Homo sapiens: one gene and its partner. Each later gene encodes a partner of the first gene's protein in a complex. Each region holds a gene or a part of one and is shown on either strand. Other genes may lie near its edges. A codon is read from its position in the direction of its gene.

Region 1 (14,818 bases):
GACTCCCAGAAAGTGTTGCTGCTGAGTAGAGAAAACATTTCCAACATGATTCTCTACGATCCTTCATTTATTCATTCAACAAATATTTCTGAAGTCCCAACTACATACTGGGTACTATGCTAGGTATGGGGGGTTCAACAGAGAACACCCTTTGAGATGATGTATAGATCAGAACACCAACACTGTCTAGAAGTTCACAGTTAAGAAACTACAATCCTGCCAGAGTCAGAACTTCAGGTGGTCACCAATGCAAACCTAGAAACTCAGCTCATAACTAAGGATTCTCTGCTATCCTATGCCTGTGTCCACAAAAAGCTGGTCTTAGCATAGCAGTTGCAAGGGCTTAGCTTGCTCCATACAGGTTAGGGTTGACATCAGGACCTAATGTCCATGCTGACAGACTGTCCATGGCAGTGGACATGTACACATTATTGCATGTAGTAATTATTTAACCCTTCGTGCTTTGGTTTCTTTATTTATAAGTGGGGAATCCCATTTCCTTGACAGCAATATTCTCTGGATTCATGAGTTAATGTGTATAGAATAAGCACTACTTGACCCATAGAAAATGCCGTGTGCTTTGGATGTCTTTACTATCATCACCATCATGATTATTAATAGTAATAGGGTAGGGCTCCTTAATATAGACTTGTAAGGTGGCTAAAAGCTCAGGTCGTAGAGCTGGACCACCCAGGTTCTAAATCCTCTGCTATTTTCCAGCTATGGAACCTAACAGAAGCTCTCTGGGCCTTAATTTTCTCATCTCTAATCATCATGATAACTACAGTCCTTGCCCCATATGGTGAATGAGAATCAACAGAAAATAAGGCATGTAAATTGCTTCACACAAAACCTGGCCATAATAACTATTCAGTAGATAGTAGCTATGATTGCTTTCCCCTCTTTCTAAGTGGGTGCTGTCATGGCAATTGTCCTTTTTGAATCCATTTTTGCATATAATATGTGTATATGAGGGTAAAATCACCATCTAGTCTATAGACTGCAAAATGGCTTGACAAAATCATAACAGAAGCTGGAAGAGAAATAAACATCACAAGAAGACTGCGGATTTTGAGGTCAATAGGCTGCATCGCCAAGTGGAACTGGGATGTCACTTCTCCACACATGTTCCTTGGGTTGCTCTCTGTTGGGCAGCATGTGAGCATTCTGTGGTTGTCTGCATGACAGTTAAATTATGTCAGGCTTTAGAATTATGTAGGCGTGGAAGAAGGCGGTATGTCCCCCTACAAAGGGTAGAATGAACTAGAGAACAAACTAGAATGATCTAGAGTCCTGTGGACCAATACTGCAGGAAAACGTACTACCCTCAATGTCTACCGAGGGGTGGCTGCCATGTTTAAACCACGAGTGACCCCAGAACCCAACAATGGTGGCCAAACAAGTCTGGAGCAATCAGACTCCACAAACTCGAACACAAACACTTTCTGTGTATCACGTTGGTGTGCCAGGGGTAGTGAGAGTTCAGAAAGGTAGGAAGTCAAATTGATTAACTTGTGCATAATTAAAAACATTCATTTTTATACTAATCCAAGCACAGGTGTGTTATAAAAAAGAATGAAAAAAAGGAAAGAGACCACATGAAGTTCTAAAACACAAGCCAAGATTAGAGGCATGTACTGCCTTCTGAGGTTACCCTCTAGCCTCAACCCCACATCCTAGGGGAGGTTGTTTGCTGCCAATTTAATTAGGGGACCTTCAAGGGAAAGTTCGAGAAACCCTGGGGTGGTGGGAAGAGTAGAGATGTAGACATTGGAAGACCTGGATTTAAGGTGGAGGGCTTTGGCACTTAACTATCTTGAGCAAGCTGCTTAACGGATCTTTAGCCTCCTCATCTGGAAAATGAAATCATCCCCATAGAATCAACCTCAGACTTGATGCGGGGCTCAAAAGAAATAATACATGTGGAAGTGCTGTACAAATATCACAGAAGATTATTAGAGAGAGGGTCTACAGAAATCGGTTGCCTTAGCACATTTGAGAGCTGCAGTTAACCTGCTACAGTTATGAAAGTGGATTCAAAGTTGGTGGCAAGGCAGAAAAAGTAATGGTCCAGTGTGTAAACAGCTGAGTACACACTCATTACACAAGCATCTCGTAAATCACTGCTTAGCAGAAGCTGAAGGAGAGGAGGATCAGTGACAAGAGATAAGAGAACCAGAAAGTGGGAAAATACAACCCAGTCAGTCCTGTCACTTTTCTACCTATGGCTGATTGAAGACGGAAAATAAGAGCCAGCTAGGAGGAGAGGGAGAAAGAAGGCAAGCAAATCCAGCCGCTTGTGCCTTGCAGCCTGTGGATTACTGTTAAAATTACTGTGTCTGCTCTAAAGGAATTGCTGTTGGAATCTATTGAGGTTCCCTCTAGAGTGTTTCAAGTCCTGCTCCTGTTTTAGGCACCTATAATTCAGCATGCCTTTTCAAAAACACATTCAAGACCTGAAAATAAAATGCAGAACAAATGCAATCAAATGACATCATTCTTCTGAGTGACAGCCAGGGGCACACTGATCCCATGACCCCATTACACAAGGTTGCAATCTGCTATCGTCCTTTCAGTGGCAAAATCAGTGGCACCCAGCACAGAGCATTGCTTACACTAGCAGGCATCAAACAAATATTTGTTGAATTGAGTATCTTCTCTACCTATTTAATAGGTTAGAAAATTGTCAGCTTTTTCATCAAAACTACCACCCTTTTTCATTCAAACTCCTCTTGAAATTCAATTCCATTAAGGCTTTTCAATGCATACTAGCAGCAAGGAATTTACTTAAATGAAAAAAAAATGCAAAGCTCCAAGCTCCCACCTGTGCAGCCATGACATGCTATTGTTTGAACCAGAGTATATTATTTAACTTGGCTGACAAGCTCAGGGGGTACAGACCCTGTCTTTCAGAACACACAGCTCTGAGCACACTGGGAGTTCTTGATAAATAGCAGCAAGAAATGCTGTGGAGGGACCCATTTTAATTATTTATTTTTCCAGTTCCAGATTTTTGGCAGCATGTGTTTATCCTTTGCTTGATTTCCAAGGGGCAGCTCTCTCGCAGAAGCTCCGCGACTTCCTCTGCCACTGCCCCTCCCCATCCCGGCACAAGCAGGAACACCTGATTGAGCCAAAACGTGGATTTTGAGTGCATTCAAGATGCTGGCTGGGTTTGGAAGGGAACTGAGTCTTCCAGGACCCAATAGGTAGAGAGACGCAGTCAAGAGAAATGTTTTGGCTCCACACATCGACACAGCTGTCAGATGGCAAAGCTTGGACTTTCACCCTCATTACCTGCTGTGGGCCTCTGAGCTGGCTTGTCATTAACCCCAGAGACTAAGTGTGTCTAAAGCTTGACACAAAGTAATATTTCGGGGGTACTTTCAAGTCTTTCAACAGAGAAGTAGGAAACGATAATTTTACCAAACTTAAACCGTTAGATTATAAAGATCTAATAAAGACAGGAATCAAATATTACATTATATGTGTACGGCAACAGCAAGTCATTTAGGAGGCAAATATGTGTTTTTACATATTTTTAAAAATTATACCAGTAACAAAATGAAGGCCTTAATGTGTGTGTCCCAGCACACAGCTTGACAGGCAAAGAAGCAGCAGCAAGTGACCGTTCTAAGAAGCCTTGCAAAAGACCTCCTGGTTTTTTTCTCCCTGGCTCATAGGGCTAATATTTGGTAAGATGTGCTTTGCAGAGAAAGAAGGGGGTGGGGGAAGCTGTCTTTCTATACACATATTAATATACCTGGGAGCCAACGTGCCCCTGTATCAACACATTTTCCAAGCAGTGACTTCTCCCCTTCCTCTCTGATTCATTTTGTACCAAAACAATGGCAACACCTGTAGCCGTTAATTTCTGCGCTTTGATTTTTGTCCAGTTATAAAGGAGGCTCCCAGCAGGCTCCCCTCTCAGGAGCCATATGTGGAGTTGATGTGCCAGCCGCCTTGGAAGGGAAACGGCCTCCGGAGAAGTGCACAATGGCTCCATAATCCCCATCAACTGGACCCTCTTGAACTGCCTCTTTATTTTCCAGTCAAAGAAATGCCAATCTCAAGATAAAAGCTGTGGCTGCCCTGGGAGCCCAGGGGAAACCTGTATCGCTTGCCTGGTTCAGCCCCAGGGTGGTGACTCTGAGTCCCGCCATCTAGTCTCGCAATCTGGAGCCCAGAAACTGCCTGTAGCACCCCCAACACTTTCCCTTGCACTCCCCTCTAGGATGAGGCTTTTACCACAAGGCCACCTCCCGCCCAGCCTCTCCCGGCGGCTGGCGACCACAGCGCACCCTGAGCAGAGCCACGGCACCGCCCCCTCGCACCGGCTCACGCCAGGGGTTCGGTTCCAGCGCAAGCCTCTGTTGCAGGCTGGCATTTCTCCACGCTGAGCGGGCTAGCAACTCTTCAGACCACAGCACTTGCGTTGCCGGTGGGGGGCGGAGACAGGGGGCCACAAAGGCTGGGGTGTGGCAGGGAGCCCTTTAGGTTCAATGGCTTCTCTGCCGAGGGCACTGTGTTGCTAACTGTTGACCAAGAGGGTCAGACCCACACGCCTGCTGGGACTACACGGAAGGGGCACAGAGAAGTCTGGAGAAGCGAATGGGAAAGAGGGGCTGCGCGAGGAGACTCAGCCCCAAACAAGCGTCCCCGTTTGGACAGGGAAGGATGGCAATGGGATGCAGCCACTAGAGTTTTGAGTCTAACTCCAACCCTCCCCGCCCCCCTTTTTACACTCTCCCTTTGGGGACCTCAGGCCGTGCTCCAGGTCTCGGGGACCGTCCGAGAGGAGCCTTCGGACGGCCGCCCGCGGTGTGAACCTGAGACCTGGTAAATGTCACCCGGCTGTACCCCCGCCCCGCCGCTCGCCCCCAGCTCGTTCTGCCTCGGCGGCGGCGGCGGCTCCCCGGCAGCAGCGCTCTCCGCGGCGCCCCGGGGGCAGGACTTACGCAGTGGCTCTCGGCCGTCTTGAAGTCCCAGCTGACCCTCTTGGCGCGCGCCTGGATCTCACTCATTCTGAAGAGGCAGAGCGCCGTGGTGGTGGGGGAGCGCCGCTCCTGGCCCTCTCCAGCGGCCGCGCTGAACACTCCCGCCCAGACGTCCAGGGCCTCCACTAGGCTGGAGGAGAGGAGCAGGCGGCGGCCGTCGGGGTGGCCGTGGCCGCAGTCGAGGGATGCCTGGCCCTGGAACAGCACCTCGGTGCTCTGCGCGATGCGCGCCATGCTGGGCCAGCCGGTGGCAGCGCCGCTCGTGTAGTTGTAGGGGTAGTAGGGGAAGTAGATGCTGCCGTTCCAGAGAAAGGCGTCCACGAAGTGCAGGCTGCCCGCGCCCTCGCACAGCTTGAGGCGCCCCAGCTCCTGCGTGGCCAGGCTGCGCCCCTCCGTGTCCTTGAGCGCGATGGCCGTGTCGTGGTCGGATGCCGCGGGGTTGCAGCGGCTCGCCGTCTCCGGCTCAGGCAGCACGTAGGTGGCGGCCACCGCCAGGTACCAGCGGTTGTTCCGGCCCGCGCGGTACACCACGCCGGCCGTCGAGCCCTGCGGGTGGCACGACACCACCTCGGTGCCGTTGCGCAGGGAGTTGCGGCTCAGGTTGCCCAGGGGCCGCACCTCGCAGGCGCCCCGGTCGAAGGTCCAGCCGGTGAGCAGCAGCCCCCCGAGGCCGGCCGCCCCCTCGCGGTAGGGCAGCAGCAGCTTGCTGAAGCTGCTCCCGGGCCGGGGCCGCGCGGGGGGCGCCAGCGAGACCGGCTCTGTGCAGTTGCCCGCTTGGTCCCGGTACAGGCGCGAGAGGCTGTGCTCCAGGCTGTAGTCCAGCTGGTCCAGGCAGCTGCCGCTCGCCACAAACACGCCGTCCTCCTGGCTCGCCGCGATGGCTCCGATGGCTTGCTCCGACCGCCACACGGGCTCGTCCGCGCCCCGGCCGGGAGCCGCCAGTGCCAGCAGATAGGCGAGCAGGGGCAGTGGCGCTGCGGGGCGCGGGGGGCGCGGCGGCGCCTTCCTCCGGGAGACCTCCATGGGGCTGGGGGGGCCGCCCCCGGGCAGGGCGCGCGGCGGCGACGGCGGCTCAGGCGCGCGGCAACGGAGACGCGGGCGGCGGCGGCGGCGGTTCCTGCGCGCGCTCGGGCTCCCGCGGCCGCCCCATCCCCGCAGCTCGCCCAGGAAGGAGAGCGGGGAGGGCGGCGCGCGGCAGGCTCGCTCCGGCAGCCTGTGCAGCGGCGGTGGCGGCAGCAAGCCCTGCGCGCTCCGGCACCGTTTCCTCCTCGCCCTCCTTCGCCGGAGAGTTCCTGTGTGCAGCGCTGGCGCTCGCGGGGAGGCGCGGAGGGGAAGGGAGGGGACGGGCGGAGAGGAGCGAGGCGGGCGGGGAGGGCTGGAGAGGTTGGGTGCGCTTGTGCGTTTCACTTTCCCATTGTGAAAGTGGGATGCAACTGGCCCCCTTCCTCATCCTCTCTTCCTCCTCCGCCCTCCGCCTCCTGCCCGCCCGCCCGCCCTCCCTCCACGCCCATCTCCCCTCCCCTCTTGATTCGGTGAGATAGGGAGGAGGGAGGTCTCGTAATTTGGGTTACTGTGTAGGTGGCCTCTTTCATCTATTCATAACAAAGCTCAGCCGCCCGCCGCGGCCGCCGCGGCCGCCACCATCGCCCCCTTGGCTCGCCTGGGGCTCCCGGGGCGCGCTAACGGCGCACGGAGCGGGCTCCCGCGCCCGTCCGCCCGCGGTGCTGCTCCAACGCCCGGTTTTGTTTACGACAGCAGCCGGGTCGGGGATACGCCAGGCGCGCGGAGCGAGGATCCAGGGTGCGAAGGGGTTGCAGCTGAGGCCCCGGGCTCGGGCCACAGGGCTGCTGCGAGAGCGGCTGACAGGTGTGGAGCGGCGAGAGGGAGGCCCCGGGGAGGCGCGCGGGAGACATGGCCGAGCCGGAGACTCCGGGGACCAAGGCGCCCCTGTGACAGGGTGTGGGTTTCCCCGGGTCGGATGAGTGAGGTGGCAGAAAGGCAGGCGCCACACTCTCGTTCTGGACAATCCCCAGGGCCGGAGCGCCCATATTTGCAAAGGTTCTCTAATCTCCCTTGGCAACAGAGTCCCAGGCTCTCAAGCCTAGCACTTGGAAAGTTCTGCTCACCATCTAACCTAATGAGCGGGGCTAACATTTACTGAGCACTTACTACGTGCCGGGTGCGCTTGTGAACTCACCACATGGGTTAAGACTCATAATTCTCATAACAGCCCTATTAATTAGTGACTGTTATTGTCATCCCTACTTAGTAGTCCAGGAGAATGGTTATAGAAAGGTTGTGGAACGTGCTGGCATTCTACTGCTGGTAGATATCAGAGCCGAGATTCGAATCCATATCTAGCCCCAGGGCCTCTTACATACCTGGCTCTAGTTAAGTGCCACCTGTGGCCATTGCCATAATCCCCCAGAGATCATTCTCTGTAGTGAGACTGAAAAGTTCCTCAAGTTAAATGCACCAACCAGCCCCCGCCCTGCTTTCTACTATTAGACCCAAGTCCCCGTATTTCCCTCGAGGCTCTCCATCTGTCTCATCATTACCCACTTTTATCCTTTGGACCCCCTGAGGTCTCACCACCTCACCCAGAGGGTGAATAACAGCTGGGTTGCCCCCACAGCCGCCAAGAATTTCTGAAGCACAGGGAATCATTGCCCACTGGGGAATAGGTTCATGATTTCTCGGAATGGGGCTTCCCAGAGGATGCACAAATGCCTCCCAGCTTCCCGGGGCAGCTGCGGGCACCATCAGCACCCTTACAGTCTGGCAGATGAGCCAGGGGGTGCATAGGAGTGGAGGGTGCTGAGGACCTCTATGGATCGTTGGGAAATGATCTCTGTTCCTTCCCAGGCTATTTCCAGACCCCAGGCCCCAGGGAGGGCAATTGGCTGCTATCCCCTTTCTTCCTTCCCTCCAAGTTCCCCAGCTCGAGATGCTGTTTTGGGAAGGGAAAGGAATGAGGTGGCTTTTGTCCCATGCTGAGTCCTGCCGAAGGTTGCAGGTTTCAAACTTCTCCAACAGTGCTTCAAGTTCTCCCCAGTGCTGAGGGATATGGCAGGAGTTCTGGAAGGCTTAAGGAAAGAAGGGTGAGGTGGAGGGAGAAGAAGAGAAGTGTGAGTTTCTGCTCTAGATGTGAAGTTCAAGGATCCTATCATTTCAGCAGTGGCTCTCATACACTAAAGTCAGAGTGGTCATCTTTTCATTCATAAGCCTTTCATTTGCAATTGGATAACATTATCTTTGCCTGGCAGGAGGCAGAAAATGCCTTCCCACGAGATATGAGGTTGCCCTTTGTGCTGTGATGATGGTGTTGGAGTGTCCATAAGGAGAGGGGAGGAAGAAGGGGAAAGGCCTAAAGTACCCAGTTGGTGTTAATCGGGACATCTCAGGCAAGACAAGTCAGATGTTTCACCTGCTCCAAAATATCTGGCCTTGCTCCCCCACTCCCTGCCCTCCTGGAATGCTTTCAGAATTTTTGCACCTCTGGAAGTGGGAAGATCAATATTTTAAAAACCTCATCCGAAGCTCAGAGACCCCCTCCACAGCATAGTAGGGGATTTATGCGCTGGTGTTTTGACAGTTTTCCCTGTGACTGATGCAGAACTCAGTGACCTTCACTGGCTCCGTGAACCAGCGGTGGCAGTGTCGCTATGTGCTGAGAAGCAACAGTTCAATTCCATTCCAGAGATAGTTTTACTTCACTGGTAACCAAGTCATTTCTCTAAGTCCCGTAGAGTTGGTACAATCAGTCACAGACCATCTTGGGAGCTATTTGGATTAAACATACTCTGTGGTGCGGCATTTTGATCACTACTCAGTTCATTGCTGCTTCATTTTGAAAAAGAAACAACATCTTAAAAATACTACCCACAAGAAGTATAAATGGCTTTGATGGCTACAGTTCCCTGCCATTCTACTGGGACCATAAGCCCCACTCTTAAGAGTGGGCTTCTTTTGCCTCCCATTTAATTGTATGCAGACTCCTACGGTGAAAGAAATCAGAATCTGTGCTAACTTTTTGGCATGAAAAACGTAGGCGACGAGGAAGCATATAAATGCATTCTTTGCTGATTCTACCCCCATTTTGTACAAACATGTTTGCCCCTTCCCAATTTTCTTGTGTACTAAAGCTCCACCTTCAGGACACAAGTTCACATTTGAAAAGTGTGGGAAATACGAACAACTGAAATAAATATTTAGGCATGCGGGTTCTGTATCTCTTTGATCACTTTCTCTTGGACACCACCGTCTGGCCCAGGGGTGCAAGTCCCTTTGGTGACAAAGCTTCCCTCTCCAACTGGCCGAGCCCATCTTGTTGGGTGTCACTTATAGCACATTTCGGAACTCCTTGTAACACAACTGGCTGAAACCCAAAAAAAAAAAAAAAAAAAAGAAGATGGTGCAGATTTATCCTCCAGACAGAGGCCTGCTACCACGGAAACAGGCAGTTCAGACCGATTCTGAGCAGTTTTATTTGCAGCGTTCACTAGATGGGAAAGTCTTCATAATGAGAAAATATCAAGTCCCTCAGGCACCGAAGGCAATCTGGGTTAACCAGGCCATCCACAATCAGACTCATTTCTGGTGGACAGGACTTTATAGATTCAGTGGTTTCCTGCTGGGGCCCAGGACATTAAGAACTGTTCAGTAGGCAATTGGTCACAGTCACAAGATGGCTATCATTGGTGCTTCAGTTTTCTTTCTGATTTTCTTTCTTTTTTTTTTTTTTTTTCATCTGACAGTGGTCTGTAGCATGACTTGGCTGGCAGAGATTGAAAGCAACTGAGAATATTTGTTCTGGTGGTCAGTGAATTCTCTCTAAGCCTCATCTACATAGCTACAACCCCCTGTGCAGAATTTGGAAATACCACCCAGTGGGTGGAATAGTACCTGTATTGTCCTCTTAGGTTTTAAGCAGACCACTTCTTCCTCCACAGTTTTGCTGATATCTATGTGGTCTTCCACATCGAGGCCCTTATCAAAGCTCCCAGGCCCTTTTGGTGGCTGACAGGAAAAAGAAATGAGCCAGTCTTCTTTCTAGTCTGCTGATGAGTAGATGGTTGAAAAAAGATTAGAGGAAGAGCTGTTTAATAAGTTCGCATTGGTGCTGAGAGATGAGTTGGACACAGTTCAATCAACATGAAAAGTCTCTCTGACATGGCACAGTTAAGACGTGGCTGAAGGAACTCAGTGCCTCATCCTCTCTGCCCACCCAACATGGCCCCAGACGATTGCTGGGCATTCTTATGCTTGGTGATAGTGCCCCCATGCCATGGTTTAAAGTGAGGAAGGCTTGTGGTGTTCCTTCAGTAGGTGGGACTTGGGGGTCACTCCCAACATTACAGTTGTCATCTTTTTCTTTGTCATGATTTAATAGCTCATGGTCATTCGCCAGCAGAGTGCAAATGTACACTGGAGGGTGGAGTGGAACGTACAAGAAAATGACTCTTTACTCAAAGTCCAATGACTGTCTTTAAGCTAAATAAGAGCATTCACTCTGCTTTAGGGAGGGATGAGCTATTGCCTAAAAAGACATAACATAGCATAGCATAGCATAGCATAGCATAGCATAGCATAGCATAGCATAGCATAGCATAGCATAGCATAGCATAGCATGCCATAGCATAATATAATGTCAGATATGTTTAAGAGACTGCGAAGTCTAGGACATCACCTTAGCATTCTAGCACCACACTTCTCAGAGAGTATGTTTAGTGTCATGAAGTTTCTCTCGAGCCTTTTCTCCAAAACATTCACCAAAACCATCAGTGGTTAAGAATCTGAGACAATTACTGGTTGAAAGCAAAGTATGGTAAATCATCAACCATCACAGTGTTTTTCTAGACCGGCTGGAGTTCACCCTGCATGAAGTATGCGAACTCATCAGTTAATTACTTCTTCAGATTTGGGGAATCTCTGTAACTTGAGCAGTCTCTTGAAAATCAAGCTTTTCTCTGATATTCACAGGATTCCAGTCTGTCTCTCCTTGTATTTTCCTTGCTGTTCTTCGGAAATAGGAAGCCAAAAGGGCATCAAGGACTAGACACAAAACGCTGATTCCTCTTTAATACAACGTTGTTTCCCGTGTCTTTGCCCTCCCATCACAGCTCTGAGACTCGCTGTCAGCATAATCCTAGGCTCTGAATCCTCTGATAACTGGCAGCTTGGCATAAACCCATTCTAAGAGAAGAGCTGCCAGAAACCAGGCCTTCTTATTAATAATAACTCCAACTCTTGAAATGAATAGCAGAAGATAAGATAAACACGCAGATAACTTCACAGCCACTTGTACTTCCGCTTCCTTGAGATTCTGGTGGGGAGATGCTCTGAGCTGACAATAAAGTTGCTGGACTTCGCAGTGAGCCCTCTAGTGCTCTCCACCAAGCTGGTGTGGCTTCTCATTCTTATGTCCTTGCCACTCCCTAGAAAATAGCCCCACCAAGGTCGGGAGGAAGCAACCAATATCAGCTCTGAGCATGGGCTCTTGCGGTCGGGCAGTTTGGCGTATGGCCCCAGGGTGGGGGCAGCCCCACTCATCACCCATCCTGGGGAAGCCCTGGGAATATGGCAGTCCAAACAGCATCTCTCAGGCACTCATCCCCACGCACAGAATCCCAAATGCAAAGTTCATGGAAGACCGAGTGTTTGCCTCGCTCTCCTGCCCCTATTTTTTTTTTTTTTACAAAGCCTTCATTGAAGTATGACTGTCATACAAAAATCCATACCTATTTATTATATACAACATGTTGTGCTTGGAGATAAGTCTACACCCTTGAAACCATCACCGCAATCTCTTTCACCCCTTCCCTAGTCCTTCCTATTTAGTTCTTCTTCCCCGTCTGTGTTGAATAGTCTCTTCTTCTCCCTGCAGACCATTTCCCCACTGCTCCCCCTTTTGCTTGAGACCCAGAAGTTTGACATTTATGGACATCACCCTTGCCTTTTGGCTTCTCGTTGGATTCAGCCAATGGGAAGCCCCAGCCAGAGATCTAGGGGTGGACAGCTAGGGTGAAGTTTGAATATTTATTCTCCCAGCTCCCTCTCTGCTGATCTATGCATTGGCCATGGCTGTGTCCCTCTACAAGGCCACAGCTCCTGTGGGCTGTCCTCTCTCACAGCTACACTGTAGCCACAGCCTTTCGTGGACCCAGTAACCACTCCCTCACCCTCCTCCTCAGGCCTGTGGGATTCCATGGTTGTCGCTGTGGCTAGCCTCTGCTGGTCTCCCTTCATCCTGGCATGGCTCGGCCATGGTCCCTCAATTAATGTATCTGTTTGCATGTGTCACCTGTTTCCTGCCAGAATCATAACTAACAAACCAATCTACCTCCAAACATGGATCTAGAGGTGACCCCAAATGATGTTTAAACCTGTACATTCACTTTGTCCACTGATGGAAAGCAGAAAGGCTGCTAGTCAAAATGGAACTCCTTTGTTTCCAAATGGTTGGTTCCCCTGAATCTGGCAATGGAAAAAAAGCTACATTTTTATTCCCTTTGCACAGGCTTTCCTACACTAAATTCAACCCGGTGATACAGACAGATGGAAACCTGGCTGGGCAGGATTTTTTTTTTTTTCAGTTAAAACATAAAACTAAAAGAATCTTAAAAGTAAATCAGAACTACTGGGGACTAAGGGTTCAGAAGGTGGTGGGGGCAGAGGGTGGTTATGATCTCTAAAATTCTGCTGAACGTTTGAAATATATTTTCAAACAAGATACAAAACCAAGCATGCCGCTTTTTCCTTTTAAGACATTTCTCCTTAAGTCTGAACTCCAGCTGTCCCTTCAATAAAGTTGAGAAATTCCATTGATATTCATTATTACCAAAGCAGGATTATTAAGAGATTGCTATACTTCCTCATCTCCAGACCTCACCCTATGTCGCCCCCTACTAATAATGAAGAGATAACTTGGATGTTTTTGGTTCCTTTATACTCAAGGAAACCTATGTAGTAGAGACAGGAACCCTCTAAAGATGCTACTTTTTTTTTTAGAAGGTTTTTCTTTTTTAACTTTTAAAACATGTTGAAAAGTAAATCCATGTCTGCATAAGTTCCCAACCCACATTTCTCCAAGCTTCTGGAAGGTGGGCCTGGTGGGCACCCTCAGCTCCTTAGTGTTTCCCAGCTGGCCCCTGAAGACAGAACTTCCCTTCCAGCCTCTGCTGCTGTAAGGCCCCTCTGCCACCTCCCCCTGCAGCCTCCCTTCCCACCTCACCCAAGACTGATTGCTAAAAGAAGGGAAGAGGAATGAGAACAGCCAGCACACCCAACTGTCCTGTCCCACCCCCACGCTAAGGTCCCTACCCCCGACACACAAAGGGCAGGGCCCAGAGACCAAGCCCCAGCCAACTAGGAGGCAGCCATTCCAGTCCCAGCAAGGAAGCGAAAGTGCCCTCAGTCCAGCTCAAAGGCCCCTGAGCCCGGGCCATGGCCCCAAGAGACAGGCCCAGCTGCCAGGAACACATGCAGAACCCACAGGTCCAGGCTGGGCTGTCGGCAGCTCTGGGTCTTGGAAAGACCTGGCAAGAGCCCTAGCCCCTTCCGTCCTCAGTGACACCAGAGATGCCTGGGGATGGCCAGCAAAGAGGTCCTGGAGCCTGTGGTTGGTGGAGGACCTCAGGATTCAGAGTGAGGGCACTGGGGGCTCCAATCAGGGTGGGTAGGGGCGGAGGGCCAGGACAGGCAGCCAGAGCGGGGAGGATGAGAGGTGGTGGGCGCTGGTTGGGGGCCAACCAGGGCTGGAGGAAGCGGCCCTGCTGCACTGTGGGTGGCTGTCAGAGCAGAGTGGGAGCCGTGGGCAAAGGTGGCCTCAGCAGCAGGGGGCACCTAGGGCAGGGAGGTGGGAGGTGGAACGGGGGTGGTGCAGGGGGGCACCGATCGGGACACAGACATGGAGATCGATGTAATCTGGACCTCATGATCTTCTTCTTGGGCTGGGGCTAGCAAGGGAGCCCCTCTCCTAGCCTCCTCCACGGGGACTGTGGCTCCACGGGCCCCATCCTGCTCAGCCTCCCATTCCTGCAGCACCTCCTCCAGATTGAAGCAGTGCCAATAGCTCACAAAGAAGGTCTTCACCTGGGTCAGAGTCTTGTTCCCAATCACCTCTGCAATAGCCCCAAAGTCTGCCATACCTCCGGATGGCTTAGGCAGCCAAAAGCTGCTCCTCTGTGGTCCAGCAGGAGTTGAACTTAGTGTTGGCCTCCAGAGCGCGGAGTGGATCAATGGCGCCCTCCAGGGCTTGGCGCAGGCTGCTGTTCCTCTGCTTTATGCTCTGTACCTCTCTCTTCGGGTGTCCAGCATCGGGCTCTCCTTCACTCAGGCCTCCTCGACTCTCTTCGAACTCATCACTGTCTTCTTTGTCCTTGCAGCCCCTCAGCCGCCGGGCCTGTCTGTCCGTCATGCTAGTTCGGCTGTGGGTTTTCTTCCAAGAGTAGTGATATTTCACCAGGCTGGAAATCAACTTGTCGGGCAGCGTCTGTTGGATCCACACTTGTCGTGGAAGCCAAAGGCCTGTTCCAACAGCACCTTGTCCTCTACTGTCCACTCCTCAGGGAATGGGGTGAAGTTGGCCAGGTCAGCCAGCGACTTCTCCACATGGTGCTTATTCCAGAGCATGCCCAGCGTCTGCTCAATGTTGTAGCCATGCTTCTCCGTGGCCATCACAATATACTTGTCAAGTTTGGCATCTGACACACAGTGGTTGGGTGACCACACCAGCACCCCCTTCAGCTTCTTGTTGCTGTAGCGTGCGAGGCTCTCAGGCTTGCACTCCGGAATTATGGCCTGGTAATTGGTTCCAACGC
Region 2 (15,791 bases), on another chromosome or scaffold:
TTTATCCTGAGGGCAAAGAGCACCCCTGAGGCAGCTGCAGGCAGGGCAGTGGGGGACCAGATCTGTGTGTGAGATAATCTGACAGCTGTGTGGAGGCTGGATTTGTGGGAAGTGAGATGGGGTAGGCGACCAGCTAGGAGGCTGGCTGGATCCTCCAGATGGGACATGGAGGGGGCCTCAACTGGAGCTGCTGCAGGGGAGCTGGGTGGAGGGGAGCTGCTAGGTGTGAAGGACAGACTAGCTCTGGGGGCTGAAAGTGGGGAGGCAGGCAGGATGTGAGCAGGCGGATGGTGGTGCAGCAGTAAGAATAAGGGACTGGGGTGACAATTTGGAATGAGGTGCCATAGGACAGCCAGGTGGGGATGTGTATAATTAAAGACAGTTGGATGTCTTTGGGCTGAGGTAGTGATCAGGAAGTTCTAAGTTGAACACTGGGCCTGTGTCATGTGAGAAGGCAATTAAGCTTTTCAGAGAAAGGTAGAGGAAAAGGGATACCCACTAAGGAGTTCAGCTTTATAGAAAATGGTGACTGATAGATGTGAGGCATGGAACGGGCGCAGGATCTGCTGCTTCTGGGAAGGTGAGAGCAGGAGTCAGCAAAGCTGAGGGAGTGAAAGGACCTGGACAAAGAGGGCATGCTCAGTGGGGTCAGATGCCACAGACAAACCTAGTAACAGAAGGGCTGACCTTGGACTTGTTGACTTGTGCCTTGGTGACCTTGGGGAGACATTCCAATGGAACCGGAGCCAGATAGCAGGGGTTGAGGACTGAATAGGTGAGGGGCAGTGGATGCAGAGAGGGCAGGGGACCTTGCTTGTGAGGGAGAGGATAGTAGTTAGAGGAGAGATGGGATTGAGTGTGAGTTTTTGCAGTTCAGCAGAGGTGAAGTTGGAAGTGATCACAAGAACTTTTCTAGGAAGCTGAGGGAAAAAAAGGAAAAGACCCCAAAATAGAATATGCAAATATGTAGAGATGGGTGAGTTTTCTAACAGATCCGTTCTCCTGATATAACTCAAATTTGGCTGGGCTGGTATGGGCTGGGCTGGCACAGCTTGCTGGGCACATGGGCCCCAGATCTGCTCCTCGCCTCAGTCCCATCTGGCCTGGGCCCCAGACCAAGCTCACAGAGCCCTACCCTGAGGTGGCTTCTTGTTGCTGTTGCCACAGACTTTGGCCCTGGGTGTTTGTTGAGGATGTTGGGGAGTTTATTCAGGCCTCCCTCTTTCTGCTTACCCAGCCTCTCCAGCAGGTGGGGTCCCCTCTGGCCCTGGGCTGGGCTCAGGTCAGTTCAGCTGTGCCCCTAGTTCCTCTGGGCCTGGGCCTGTCTCGTTCTCATAGGCTCTGAGATCGCTGGGAATAGAATTCAACTTCTATGCTAGAAATGCTTTCGTGGCAACCCAGGCACTGGCCTACTCTATCTTGGCAAAACTAGCTAATATTAATAGTACATTACACAGCACAGTAGTGCTTATTTATCAAGCATCCTCTCTGTGCCAGGCATTGAGCTAGGCACTCACATGTGCCATCTTAGTTAATCCTCATAGCGACTCTGAAAACTAGATATTATTAGCCCCATGTACAGAGGAGTGCTTCCTGTATGCTGGGGAAGTGGCCTTTCTAGGGCTTGGGTGGGATTGTGTCAGCATGATTCCATCAGTGCACCCACCTGGGGCCTTGTGCCTGGCTGGCCGAAGGGTCTCCTAACCACTTACCTTTGGAGTGGCAGCTCAGGTCTTGGAGGGGACTTAGGCTTCTAAGTCAGATTGAGGTTTAGATTGCTTTTCCACATATGACCTAACTTCTTGGAGCGTCAGTTGTGCCTTGTTTGACGTTTTCCCTCAATTTCTATAAGTGGATATTGAGTATGTGTATCAGAGATGCCAGGCACTCAGAGCTGGGCCAGTGAATGTTCTAGATGGCATCAGGGCCCAGACAATGAAGTAACCCTAACAAGGACAGAAGCAAAGAAAGTCTAAGGTCCTGCAGTGGGGACCAGAAATTTTTTTTTTTTTTTTGAGACAGAGTTTCACTCTGTCACCCAGGCTGGAGTGCAGTGGTGCAATCTCGGCTCACGGCAACCTCTGCCTCCCGGGTTCACACCATTCTCCTGCCTCAGCCTCCTGAGTAGCTGGGACTACAGGTGCCCGCCACCACGCCCAGCTAATTTTTTGTATTTTCAGTAGAGATGGGGTTTCACCGTGTTAGCCAGGATGGTCTCGATCTCCTGACCTCGTGATCCGCCCACCTCGGCCTCCCAAAGTGCTGGGATTACAGGCATGAGCCACCGCGCCCGGCCAAGGGGGACCAGAAAATTAATTGCTCTTATGCAGAATCGAGTCTCATTTCTTCTCCTGGGCCCAGATTCAATAATCTTTCTCAAATGAGCATCCCAGAGAGCCACTACTGATGGTTGAGAATTGGCCCAGGGATAACCCTGGGCTGAGATCAAGAGGATTTAACAACGTGTTGTCTCAACCCATTAAGAGTGCCTTTAGAGGTGCTAGAATAAGGAGGAAGGAAGCTAGTCTTTCAGCCCTTTACTGCTCAGCCTCCACACTAGGTGTTGTGTTCTGATCTGAGGCCTGATCTTTGAAAGAGAGAGACACAATCTGGACTGTTTAGCACCTAGGAGGGGTCAGTAAAAGTTTGCTAAATGACGGACTGATCGTGTCTTAGAAATCAACCAGGATTAGAGAGCCTCTCAAGGAAAGCCCCATGAGGGATCTATTTGAAACTGGAGTTATTTACCCTGAATAAAGAGCCGATTTAGAAGGATGTGACCTCTGTGAAATCACTGAAGGGCCGTATTCCAGGAAGAGAGATTAGACATGTCCTTGTTGCCTCAGAGGGCAGATTTAGGACCACTGTTTGGGAGTCTTCCACTGGGGAAGAAAGCTCTGTGTCAGAGCTAAACAAGATGGGCAACGCTGGCTTGTGAGGGAGCTCATCATCACTGGAGGTATGTAAGCAGAACCTGCATGGCCACCATAAGGAGTCTTGTGAGTGGCTCTCAGGTAGGACTGAATCCCCTTTGACAGCTACTCCTAACTCCAGGAATTGAGATTCTTGGATCATTATATTCATGAAAGAAAGTGAACTGTTTGTGGGTAACCACCCTTTTGCATGTGTATCTCCTCACTGAAGTGGCCTCAGCAGGCCCAAGGATCACATCAGAGCTGGGAGGGTCCTGGGACATCTTCTCTCCTATAGACATCACTTTATTTTTATTTTATTTTAGTTTAGTTTAGTTTAGAGATGGAGTTTTGCTCTTGTTGCCCAGGCTGGAGTACAATGGTGCACTCTCGGCTCACTGTAACCTCCACCTCCTAGGTCAGGTGATTCTCCTGCCTCAGCCTCCTGAGTAACTGGGATTACAGGCACACAACACCATCCTCAGCTAATTTTTATATTTTTAGTAGGGACGGGGTTTCACCATGTTGGCCAGGCTGGTCTTGAATTTCTGACCTCAGGTGATCCACCTGCCTCGGCCTCCCAAAGTGCTGGGATTATAGGCGTGAGCCACCATGCCTGGCCGACATCATTTAAAAGCATATTTAATTCATCCTATAGAAGGAAATGCAGAAGATGGAATGAGAAAGCTTTGTCTCTCTCTGATACAGAGAGAAGATAGACCAGGAGAAGAGATGGAGTTTTAGCTCTTCTTTCTCATTTTGTACACAAAGAAACAGAGGCCTGGACTGGGTCAGGGCCTTGCTTGAGTCAGTATCCAGGCTGAGACTTCATCTTTGGCCTCCCAGCCATGTCTAGTCAGGAGATTTTGTTAGTCTAGATGGATTCTATGTGACATCCATGAGATTCTGCCCTGCCTCAGGCTTTGGACAGTGAGAATAGAGGCTCAGAGATGGATTAGGGGCATAGGAATGGGAGGGAGAAGTTTGTCTCCAGAAAGTCTGGGGAGTGTCTATCACAGAAAAGTGCATGTAGAATGTATGACTAGAACAGAGAGCAGAGATGCACTTGGTCTTTGCTAAGACTCGGCTCTGTTCCAGAGTGGCCACCAGGTGGCACTCCCACCACAAGCCCAGTGCCACGTTGGCCAAGTTTGGGGCTTGGGGCTAAGGATGTTGCTGATTTGTCTGTGGAAGGCACAGGACCTGTAGTGTTTTCAGGTGAGCTGAGTGCCCTGCTAGAAGGAAAAAAAATCTGTCTCTTCTCTGCTGACTGAATATTCCTCTTTGGATTTTTCCTTTGTCTTACTTAACTTGGCTGGCCCTACTTAGATCTTAGCAATTTAGGTAGGGTTGATCAGATAAAAATGCACGTAGAATGATTAGGATAGAAAGCAGAGATGTAGGCATGGGATGCTGCTGGGAGCACGACCCTCAGGGCTAAGAAGGTGGTGGCAGTTCTGAGAAGTTCTCCATTCACAGTGGGCTGAACTGATGTATGGAAGGTGGTGATCTCTGAACTGGTCTAGGAGGAAGAGGCAGGCACTTGAGGGGAATGTCCTGGCTGAGGTTTGGAGGCAGGCAGAGCACTGAGGGGAGGGTGAGGCATGGCCTGGGCAGCCTGAGAAGTGTCTTCTTGGCACTCCTTGCCTGACATGGTCTGCCAAGAGTTGGGCCAGGTATAGTGACTGTCGTGCCTGTGCCTGTGAGATAGTCACAGTGGGCACATGGTATGTTGGGGGTCCCAGATATGGGCCCCAGACCTGTTTTTATTTGCCCATATCCATCCTCCTTAACTTTTGAATTATTTGCCAATATTTTAAAAGAGAGAGTTTCAACAAAGAGTCAATTTTCTTTTCTTTTTTTTGATGGAGTCTCGCCCTGTCACCCAGGCTGGAGTGCAATGGCGCAATCTCAGCTCACTGCAACCTCCACCTCCCAGGTTCAAGTGATTCTCCTGCCTCAGCCTCCCAAGTAGCTGGGATTACAGTTGCGTGCCACCATGCCCGGCTAATGTTTACATTTTTAGTAGAAATGGGGTTTCACCATTTTGGCCAGGCTGGTCTCGAACTCCTGACCTTGTCAGATAAAAATGCATGTAGAATGATTAGGACAGAAATCATTGACCTTGTGATCCACCCACCTCGGTCTCCCAAAGTTCTGGGATTACAGCCGTGAGCCACCACCCCTGGCCTCTTTTTTCTTTTCTTTTCTTTTTTTTTTTTTTGAGACAGAGTTTCACTCTTGTGTCCCATGCTGGAGTGCAGTGGTGCGATCTTGGTTCACTGCAACCTCCGCCTCCTGGGTTTAAGTGATTTTCCTGCCTCAGCCTCCCAAGTAGCTGGAATTACAGGCGCTCGCTACCATGCCCGGCTAATTTTTGTATTTTTTAGTAGAGATGGGGTTTCACCATATTGTGCAGGCTGATCTTGAACTCCTGACCTCAGGTGATCCACCTGCCTTGGCCTCCCAAAGTGCTGGGATTACAGGCATGAGCCACCGTGCCCAGCCCTCAATTTTCAGCTTCTCTTGAAAATCATACTACCTTTCACTACTGGGTTTACTTCTTCATGGTTCCATGGGCTGGAGCTGAGTCGAAATTGCCTTATAGACAGCACAGGGTTCTGCAGACCCCAGCCCACCCACTCCCCTCGTTCTCATCAGTTCCAAGTCTCTGCCCCCTGCAATAGGTAGTAATGGTGGTAGGCAATAGGAATTGTTGCTGCTGTTAGTAGCCAGGAGGTCTGAATGGCCACCAAGCTCTGAGGCCTCAAAGAAGGGGTGGGATCTAGCATGGAGGGGGCTGTTGGGGATTGAATGCCCTCTGAGAGCTACTTCTAATCCTAAGAATTGGGATTCTTGGATCATCGTATCTGTGAAAGGAAGTGAACTGTGTGTGGGTGACCTCACGTCTGCATATGTTATCTCCTCACGGAATCCTTCTATCTCCCACAGGCCTCTTGTTTGAGGTGGGTCACTCCTGTGAAGGCCATGTGTAGCCATGGAATCAGGGCTGAGGAGGAGGTCAGATAACTCTGGAGAATGGAAGGATGAGTTAAGTTGGACCCTGAAAGGTGAGAGGCTTTAGTTGGAATGTTGGGGGGATTGCCCGGGGCTTCTGCCACTGCTTCAAGACCATGAATCTCAGGTCTGTGTGTATCCATTTCTTTCATTCCAAAAGGAGCCTTCTTGGATTGGGCTGTGCCTCAGCTGTCCATGGGGCTCAGGAAGTGATCCTTCTCAAGGTATTTTTCTTATCGATAGAAGCCCTGCATCATTTCTTCCTCCCTCCCCTGAATGTGGAATCATGGAGAAGGGAGGGACAAGAATGTGCCTCCCCATCAGACGTGTCAGCATCCACATGTGTTGCTTCCTCTGCTGGTCCACTTCCCATCACTGGCTGTGAGTGGGAATTGTGCCCCTGTTCTTGGTCCAGGCTCAAGAGCCAGCCTTGGCCTCCAATGAGGCAGGCAGGCCTCTGACACCACCTATACCATTCTGACTTGATTTTCCTATGCTGCCTGAGGCAGGAAAGTCCATGCCTAAACTCTGGTCATAGTGCCTGCCCCACAGTCTAGCTGCCTTTCCCTTTATAAAGTTATTGCCTCAAGTCATGGGCTTAGTTCTCTCCTCCCCTGGCTGCCTGCAGCCAACCGAGAGAGTGGGCTGCCATCTCGCCTGGCCCTTTGTCCCCAGGTTGGCTGGCTTGTGGGGAGGATGGTCTTAAGTACTACTTCCTTCCCCCCTACCCCCCAGTCTGGAAAAAAAATTATCTGGCATCTACCCCAGTTTCCATCTGCTACTCTGTTGATTGGGAGATTGAGCCCATTCCCTGGTCTGCCCTCCTACTCAGCACCTGGTGACCTGGGCCCTATCTAGGTCCTTCTGGGGATGGTTTGGACCCAGACTTCAGCCACAGACAGGAGGCAGCAGTGCCAGGGTACATCACACAGAGAGAAGTCAAGGGTGTGGGTCCTTGAGAAACCACCTGAGTTTCAATCCGTCCTGCCTCTAGTTGTGCGATCCTGGCACTTCACATCCCTTGTCTGTGCCTTGATTTCTTCATTTGTAAAGGGAGGTGACTAATAGCTCCTATCTCATAGGAGTGCGAAGATTGAATGAGTTGGGAGAGGCTATGAGATGGCACAGCACATAGGAACCACAGTGTTAGCAATTGTTATTGCAGTCAGAAAACCCATCTTCGTTCTACCATTTACCGGTTGACCTCGGGCAGGTCCGTCCTTGTCCCTCCCTGTACCTCAGTTTTCTTCTCTGCAGTGGAGTTACGCTCCCTCCCTCAGTGAGAGGAAGAGAGTGGAGGACTGGCAGAGATGAGGTAGGTGAATGTGGGTTATGTGTTGTGAGTTGCCATGCACATGGGCAGTGTTATCATTGATTTTGAATCCATTTGAATTCTTAGTTCCAAAAGGCAGAGACAGGTGATTTCTTAGTTTGCCCTAGCTTTGCATAGAGAGGACAGACACTGAGGGCAATACCTGTCTAGCAGGTGAAACCGAATGTCCATCTTAGAGGCTGGCCTGGGCCAGGCTCCACTGCTGGCTTCAGGGCCACAGGCTTAGGTGCAGGCCTGAGGAGGAGCTCTTAGACTGTCCACAGCCTCCCTCTCTGGGGCAGTGTGCCCCTGTGTATCAGGAGGCTGTTGGCTTCACCCAGTGGGCCAGGAACCTCACTCTGCACTGTCTCTGGAGGTACCTTGAGTTTACCTTCCTGGCCTGCTGGGGTGCCTCAGGACTCTGAGGGAAGAAGGAGGGGACAACTGGAAGCAAAATGTAGAATGGTAAAGCCAAACTTCTTGGTAGCAAAACTTTCCTGGTTCCAGGAGGTAAAAACAACAACCAAATGGTCCTGGCCCCATGGAGCAGGGCAGAGGGCAGAGGGCAGCCAGCCCACCGCCTTTGCTGGTGTCTGCAGTGCGTGAATCGTGTCTAGGTCTGTGAGTTCTGAAGGTTGGATGTTCACCTCTACTCCTTCCTCGGCCTGTCTCCTCTCAGTGCAGCTAGACATCCAGTAAACACTAGATAAGTACTTACTGAGCTGGGTGGATTTTCCATTCATGGTTCCCTGGGGCACAAGTGGAAGTGGTAGGTCTGGGCCCTGTCTGGTCTAGAGAGAGGAGACCCTTTTACAAAGGGCAGGCACGTAGTTCTGAGAGGAGGAGCTGATGGCAGAGCTGGCTGGACTGCTCAGGTAACTGCAGAGGGTCTGGGCCTGGACCCCCCAAGGGAGTCCCCACTGAATGGTCAGGTTGCCTGAGATAGCTGAGCCCTAGGCACTTTGCGGGCAGAGATCCCCTTAAGCTGCTTTGACCCTCCCTCCCCCACAGTGAGTGGGGCACGGGGGATGCTCCCCTCTCTACTTGGGGAAGGGGCCTTCCTAATTATATCCCCCTCCACTCACATGGAAATGAGTTTGGATTTTCTGAGCGTACACCAGCTGGCTTGGGGGGAGGCAGCCCAGAAGGCTGCTGGCTGGGAAAGGGAGGAGAAAGGAGAGGGAGGGGAAGGAGCCAGGCCAAGATGAAAAATTTCCAGTGTTCTCCCAGGCAAAGCAACAGCGGGTCCCTGAGTGCTCCCCACATATCATCGTTGTGCCTGCTGGTAGGCTCAGCAGGGAGCCGTGTCCACTTAGGCGAACGCATCCTCCGAGGACCATAGTCCTCAGGGTGCGAACCACTTAGCTGGCCATAGCAAGGTTGTTGGGTGTTGGACTCCTCTGCGCCCTTGGAGAGAGGTCCTCCACGACTTCTACGCCAATCTTTTTACGGGGTGCGGGGAGTGGAACTGAGGCCCAGAGAGGGGATAGGGCCTGCCGCCCCTGGCAGAAGACCACAAGTCTGGCTTGTCCGCAGCTGGGCTTTCCCCGTAGAGTTGCCCGGGAGAGGGTGGCGAAGGTTCCCCCAGCAGTTCCGCTCTCGCTCAGGAAAGCCAGTGAGGCGAGAAAAGGCTGCGAGGGGCGGGGGGAGGGGCGGGGTGGGGTCAGCGCTGGCTCCGCCTCCTGGCGCTTGGGTCTGCCTGCGGCCGGGCGCTGGCTCAGTCTCGGCTGATTGCCGCTGTCGCTCCCGGGGCCACGGGATGACGCCTCCTCCGCCCGGACGTGCCGCCCCCAGCGCACCGCGCGCCCGCGTCCCTGGCCCGCCGGCTCGGTTGGGGCTTCCGCTGCGGCTGCGGCTGCTGCTGCTGCTCTGGGCGGCCGCCGCCTCCGCCCAGGGCCACCTAAGGAGCGGACCCCGCATCTTCGCCGTCTGGAAAGGTAGGCGGCGCCGCGCGGCCGGTCAGGCGCGGGATCAGACGCTGCGCGGGGCGGGTGCGGAGTGTGCTGCACCCGGAGGGAGTGCGTGCGCGCAGCTCTGCGGGTCCCGGGCTGTCCCCGCGCTGTCCCCGCGTGGAGCGTGTGGGTTTGGGTGAGTGTGTGTGAGTGTACACGCTGGCACACCAGAGCCGGCTGTAACGCTGCGGCGAGCGAGCGGCGGGGGCCGGAGCCCCGGCTAAGTCGCACCAAGTCCCTGGCAGCCAGGAGCCGCAACGCCCGGGCGCCAGGGGAGGGGGCGGGCCCCTCTCTCGGCCCCGAGCCACTCTGGGTCCTCTGGCTCGGGGGCTTCGGCGGAGGACCTTTCCCCGCCTGGGACCCCAACCCGGGTACCCTCCTTTTGAGCTGCGGGCTCTGCTGGCGCGCGGGGCGCAGGCTGGGCCGGCAAGGGGGGCGCGGACCCCTTGCCGCCGCCGCCGCGCTTCGGCAGCGGGAACAAAGACCCCGCCGCCTGCCCCCGCCCCCGCCCCGGCCCGGAGCTCGGGCCAGGCAAGGGGGTGGGCATCCTGCAGCGAGCGGCGGGACATGGTGCGGTGCGGCGGCTTGGGGTACCAGGGCGCTGCCTCAGCAATGCCGGGACCGGCCGCTCCCCCCTTGCCCGCACGTGGCAGTTGTCACCAGAAATCGGCTCCAGCGTTGGGGGGCAGTGCCCGTTGGGTGGGGCACGGCCGTTGGGACCCCCAGGCGGTGGATCTAGGGCGGGGGTGCAGCCTTTAGGCCAGGGTAGATAATAAGAACCTGGGGGACTGGAGTCTCCCCCAGGGCACCTCAGTTTAGACCCTGTACTATGGGACAGAAAGCCGGTTAGGCGGGGGTTTGAGGCTTTCTGCCGCGAGGAACTGATCTCCCCTCCCCTGCATTGCACACAAATGCCTCCCCGCCCCCAGTCCGATTCGGCTCTGTCCCCAAATTTGGCGTGTCTGCGGCCCCCCTGTCGTGATGGTGGGGGACTCGCAGTGGGGGCTGGGGGAACTGGTCGGGTCTGGCCCCACCGGGAGCCTTTTGATGCCTTTGGCAGTTTGCAGGGATTGCGGGAGTCTGAGCATTATCTGGGGCAGGTATTATTAGCAGAGGGGAAAAAAAACCATACACAAAACGAGTGGCCCGAACTGCCGCAGTAGCTGAGGGAATGTGACTTGCCCAAGGTCACTGAGCAGTGTGGGAGCCCAGGTGCAGGCAGGGGCTCTGATCTGGCACAGGACCAGTCCAGGTTCTGGGTTAGGGAGGGGAGAAGGATTTAGGTGGTTCAGGGACCATGAATGAGGTGCTCTGGGGACCAGCTCGGCTACCCAGCCTGAGGTGCTCCTGGAGGAAGCCGAGCAGTGCTGCTAGAGCTCCGGCCGCCTGTACATGGAGGAGGCCTGCACACCCCTCTGCCATCCCAGCTCCAGCCCAAGCTTCCTTTGCCCTCCCAGCAGCTTTGCCTTCCCTCAGTCTCCTTGGCTGTCTTGGACATCATAGCGTGTGGGCACTCTGGAGGGGACAAATGGCCACATCTGAGTGTTCTGGAATCTTTCCCTCCATCAAACCCCTTGCATTTTGACTCTGTTTGCCTGTCCCAAAGTCTTCCCATGACCCCCCACCCCCACCCCACTTAATGCACACCCACTTCTTAGCACTTAATGCATACATCCCATCCTGGGCACTTAGTTCCCACCCTGAGGCTATTTAAAGTTGCTTTCAGTCCTCTTACCCACTTTTCGAAGCTCCCAGCACAGCTCCATGGCCTACCCCCCCGCCCGCAGTTCACTGCTGTAGCCACACTGGCTGTGCCCTCTGCTTAGTAATGCACTGTTGAGCCCCGCTGGCTGGGGTCTGCCAACCGTTCACCAGTCTTGTCCAACGACAGTCTGTGGTCTCCTTCACCAGTGCCAGGTGCCCCACTGGCCAGACAGGCCCTGCCATTCACCTGCCCCCCACCCCCAGGGCCACCAGCTGGTGATGGTGTGCCCGACTGACAGCTGCCTCCTGTCTCCTGTGGGGTGACACATGGCAATCGGACAGGAATGGGCTTGGGTAGGACAAACCCAGGAACAGGGTAAGAGGGGGTCTTTCTGGAAGCCTAGAGCTCTGTCTACCAGTGGTGGGTGGGAGTATGGTGGTATCCAGGAATGACAAAATCAGGGATGGTGGTGGTTCTGGAGCCATTTCTCTATGAGGCATAGATGGGGGTTTTAGTTTTGAGTCAGGACAGCTGTGGGGACTGGAATAGGTATGGAAAGTTCTTTATTTTCTGCTGCTTGGATCCCCAAGTTCTAGAGAAAGATTAAAGCAGGGAACTCTGAGAGGGGCCCAGCCTGCACTGATCAGGGAGATTGCTGCCTCTGCAGCTTGATGAAAGTCTGGCACAGCGTAGCTCAGGCCAGGGAGAGAGATGGGCCATCATGTACCTGCTGGGTGTCCTTGAGCTCCACACTTGTCTTTGACCCTTAGAGCCTGCCAGAGCAAGAAAGGCTGTAGGGATTGTCCCCCAAGGGCTGTCACTGACACATGGGCCAGTCAAGGATGTGCATGTGTGGTCCTGATCTTCCTGTAAGCAGGAACTGTAAGGGAGTAGATTGCAGGTGAGGGCTGGGGCTTAGCAGGAGGTTGGCATGCGTTTGTAAGCTGTGCACCCCTCTTCCATTTTATCAGTGGTTGGAGGAGCTAAAGAAGGCTTGGAACCCCAAGGTCAGAGGTGAACCAGCCTGTCCATGGGGAAACAGAACCCATATCCCCAGTCTCAACCTGCCCGGCTGGTTCTGCCCTCCCTCGCTTTTGTCCAGTGAAACAACGGGATGTTATTGTTGACTTGGTGGCTGCTGGGGAGCCATTCTGGGGCTGCTCCCCAGGGCAGGAGGTTGTTGTTACCTCCTCCAGGGGATGAGGTCACATCTGGGGCTTCCCAAGCATCAGCATTTCCAGTGGAAATCCTTGCCCCCTTGGGGACTTAGATGTGTTCATCACCTTCAAGGTGAACTCCCTCCACAGAGTCTCATGGTGGGGGGGCAATTCCCCGGAGGAGAGGGGGAGTTTCCTAAGCCAAGAGAGATGCTTGGTGAGGTCACCAGGAGCTTCCTACCAAGCTCTGTGACCCCTCTGTCCTGGACAGTGAAGATTCTGAGAGCAGGTCCGGTGGAATGGACGCTGGCACAGGTCCAATGATGACCATGGTATAGGGGAGAGAGCTGGGAGGTCGGGAGCCTGGTTCAGGCTGTGACCTAATTTGCTCTGTGACTGGGCAAGTCTTTGCCTTTTACTGAACCCCAGTTTCCCCAAATGCCCAAAGAGGGTAGGGGAGGGGGCTCATCCTTTTCTGAGATTTAATGTCTTAGGATTTCTCTCTCTCTGGGATGGGAGGGGCTGGGCAGAGTCTGTGGTGGCCTGTTTAAATCTTAGATTTCGAGAAATCTGGAGGAGAAATTGAAACCTGGGAAGTCAGGGGAAACCCTTAAGTTCGCGTTCTTTCCTATCTTTTTCTCTCGTGGGCCAAAGGCTGAGGATCATTTGGAGGAAATGGATCATCAGCATGTGCCCTCAAGGGTGGACATATTCATTCAGCAAACATTTGCCGGGGCCACCCTTGTGCTGGTCTTGGGGATGAGCTTGGGGATCTGGTGATGAGGAACAAGATGATTCCGTGCCCTTGTAGACTTCTCAGTGTAGATGTAGATGGGCAGATAAACCTGCAGGTACAACAGAATGTGTAACAGAGAGCAGTTATGGGCACTGAGGAGATGCCTAACCCAATTTTCCCAATCAGGGAGGGCTTCCTGGAAGAGGGAGCAAGCTGAAATGGCAGGAGGAGGAGCCAGCTGGGGGAGGGAAGGAACAGGAGGAAGCACCCCACTTAGTAGGATTTTAAACCCAAGAACTTACAGCTAGGACCACAGAGAGGAGAGAAGCCATGTGAGGGGCCCCCATGTGAAGAGGCGTTGAGTCAGCCTGGGCCTGGGGGCTCCCGAAAAGTTTGAAACTTGTCCAGATGGGCATAGGTGAGGGGATACCTGTCATCCTATGACTGGCGCAGCAGTGAGGAGGAAGGACGCACCCACTGGAGAAGGGCCGTGGCAGGCAGGGAAGGCCTCTCGAGTGCTGGCAAGGCCATAGCCCCGTCACAGTTCCCTGGTGGGAGGCTGGCTCTGGGTCCAGGGAGACCATGGCTTTCCCCATTGACTCCTGACCGCAGGACAGTCTCCAGGTGAGAAGGTCTGTCCCTCAGCTCTGTCTTCTCCTGCTCTTCCTCTGCAGAGATGGAAGGAGCATGGAGGTGGCAGGGTGGGGGTGGCATGGATAGGTCACTATCTGGGCTGAGGGTGGCGCCCTGGGGGAAGCAGGGAAAGCTGGGCTCTGTTTTTTGAGGAGGGCCAAGCAAGGTGGGATGTGAAGCTCAGCCCAGGGGGCAGGTCTGGCAGCCCTCAGGGGGCAGTAGCTGGAGTAGATGGGCCACTAGCTGATAGCCTGTCCACCCCCAGCTTCACACGGCTCTGTCACAAGAGACTGACTGCACTTCCCCTGCTTTGGTCGGCAGCTCTGGACTGAAAAGTTTCCACTTCTCTTGATTTCCTTTTTTGGCCCAGCGTGGCTGCCCCAGGAGCCTTCCTTCGCCATGGTTGGGGGAGGAAGGGGCCCTTAACCTGTCCTGCCTTCAGAAGAGCCAGGGTTCCGTACCCTTGCAGGGAGGGCCAGCCACCAGGTGTATGGCCAGCTGTCCTGTCCTCAGGGAACCAGGCAGGCCAGAAAGAAAGCAGGGGGATGGAGGGCCACGGCACCTTGTTGGGCCCTGCCTCCTCAGAGGACAGAGTTCCCCCTTCCCTAGCCAGCCAGGCCTTGAGGGACTGTCCCCTCTCTGCCCCGAATGGTATGGGGTGGCTCTCCAAGCCCTTTATTCTCCCTGGCCCTGGCCTTGCCATCTCTCCAGATCTGTGCCCAGCCTCCCGGAGGACCTCTGTCCCTATGCTGCACCCCATCCAGAACACATGGCACACAGCTGCCGCCTTCCCCAGGCCCTGCATGGTGGCCTGGCCCCACTGCCTCCTAGACTCCCACAGTTCTTCCCTCACTGCTCCCTGGCTCCGCCTCCTCTCTGCACCCCACTCACCCTCCTCCTCCTTTCTGCCCAGAAAGGAGGCTGCTGGTTCTTTCTCAGTTCCTCTGAGGAACCTTCTTGGATGACCCCAACCCACACAGCCTGACAGCGCGAGCTTAGGATGTCAGAAAAGAAATGTCAGAGATTAGCTGGGCCAGCCAAACATTCCACAGATGGGGAAACTGAGGCTCAGAGATGACAGGGACTGGCCCGAGATCACCCAAAGAGGCAGAGCTGGGACCGGGGCTGAGTCGTCTGAGCCTGCTTCTGCCCCAGCTCTCAGCCTGTTTCCAGCTTTCTGTCTGCCATCATACTCTGTCCCAGGCTGGGGGCCCCTTCAGTGCCTTTCCTCCTCTGCTAGCCCAGTTGGGCCCAGACTCTTCCCGCCCCAGTGCTGTCTGTTCCCAGGAGCCACACCAGCTGTGAGTGTCCTCTCTTCAGGACCTTGGATTTGGACCAGCTCCATATACCTCTTCTGGTCTTTCCTCAGGTGGGTTGGGCCTCAGGTCCCAAGGACAGGTTGATCTGTGTCCCGGCTCGGGCTAATCAGGTTTTAACTGTCATGACAGCCTGGGATTATGCTGATCCTGCCATGCCTTCTGCACCCCATGCTTCCAGCCAGAGGCTTGGGCTCTGTGCCAGCACCCCTGGGTGACCCCTCATCATGGAGGGCAGCCAGCCTAGGTCTGTGTTCGGCTCCTCTGGGGGAGAGGCAGGAAGAGAAGCCCTGGGTTTGCCCTTGGGGAGCCCCCACATTCCTGGAGAGGTGAGTCTTCTGCCTGTGAAGTAGGGCGGACCCCTGGGGAGGTCAGGAATGACCTGCAGATGTAGCCTAGGACTGTGACAGGAGGTGAGAGCAGGAAAGGTCAGTGTGGGATGGTGCAATCAAGGAAGGCTTCCTGGGGGAGGAGGAGGAGCCAGGCTAGAGCTAGGGGCAGGAGCATAGGGTGGGGGCAGAGTGCAGCATAGACAGCTATTCATATTGTTGTTTGTACAGAGTCTCACGCCTGTAATCCCAGCACTTTGGGAGGCCAAGGTAGGCAGATCAGTTGAGGTCAGGAGTTCGAGACCAGCCTGGCCAACATGGTGAAACCCCGTCTTTACTAAAAATACAAAAAAATTAGCTGGGTGTGGTGGCACACGCCTGTAATCCCAGCTACTTGGGAGGCTGAGGCAGGAGCTCTGGCCCAGCCTGTCGAGGAAGGAAGGTCACTGTGATGACTTCTGCACTCCATTGGTGGCCCAGGAATCTGTTCTAAGATACCTGTCCCTCTGGCATGGGAGTTTGGCCTGCCCCAGTCTTGCTTCTCTCCACTGTCTGAGCTGCTCCCTGGGAATGGAAGACTTGGAGCAAGAGGAAGCCTGGTCCTCACCTTCAGGGCCCCATAGGCCAGATGAAATCCCATCAGACAGCATGATCTGAGCGAAGATGGTGGTGCCAGATGGTTTGTGGTACAAGGTCGAAGGTACGGGCAGTGAGGGCTGGA

The links.
Region 2: the proteins of PLXNC1 (region 1) and SEMA7A are in contact, whole or in part, in a crystal structure (PDB 3NVQ), measured with the Homo sapiens proteins. Residues at the interface, in NP_005752.1 of Homo sapiens: Arg131 (codon at 5,630), Thr151 (codon at 5,570), Glu152 (codon at 5,567), Val153 (codon at 5,564), Asn195 (codon at 5,438), Pro196 (codon at 5,435), Ala197 (codon at 5,432), Ala198 (codon at 5,429), Ser199 (codon at 5,426), Asp200 (codon at 5,423), His201 (codon at 5,420), Thr203 (codon at 5,414), Ala206 (codon at 5,405), Lys208 (codon at 5,399), Arg213 (codon at 5,384), Ser214 (codon at 5,381), Leu215 (codon at 5,378), Ala216 (codon at 5,375), Thr217 (codon at 5,372), Gln218 (codon at 5,369), Glu219 (codon at 5,366), Leu220 (codon at 5,363), Arg222 (codon at 5,357), Lys224 (codon at 5,351), Glu272 (codon at 5,207), Ala350 (codon at 4,973), Ser352 (codon at 4,967), His353 (codon at 4,964); in NP_003603.1 of Homo sapiens: Gln194, Tyr196, Asn197, Gly198, Lys199, Arg202, Arg204, Tyr213, Ser215, Asp216, Thr217, Gln270, Gly271, Gly272, Glu273, Ser274, Ser275, Leu276, Val278, Ser279, Lys280, Pro372, Thr375, Glu376, Phe378, Gln379, Asp382, Arg383.

The regions. Positions count from the first base shown.
Region 1 is NC_000012.12:94,140,174-94,154,991, reverse strand, and holds the start of PLXNC1 (plexin-C1 precursor), read right to left. Parts: upstream 6,416-14,818; 5' UTR 6,021-6,415; coding exon 4,959-6,020; intron 1-4,958.
Region 2 is NC_000015.10:74,427,129-74,442,919, reverse strand, and holds the start of SEMA7A (semaphorin-7A isoform 1 preproprotein), read left to right. Parts: upstream 1-8,961; 5' UTR 8,962-9,001; coding exon 9,002-9,179; intron 9,180-9,215; exon of another isoform or gene 9,216-9,330; intron 9,331-15,791. UniProt on the Homo sapiens protein: Plays an important role in integrin-mediated signaling and functions both in regulating cell migration and immune responses.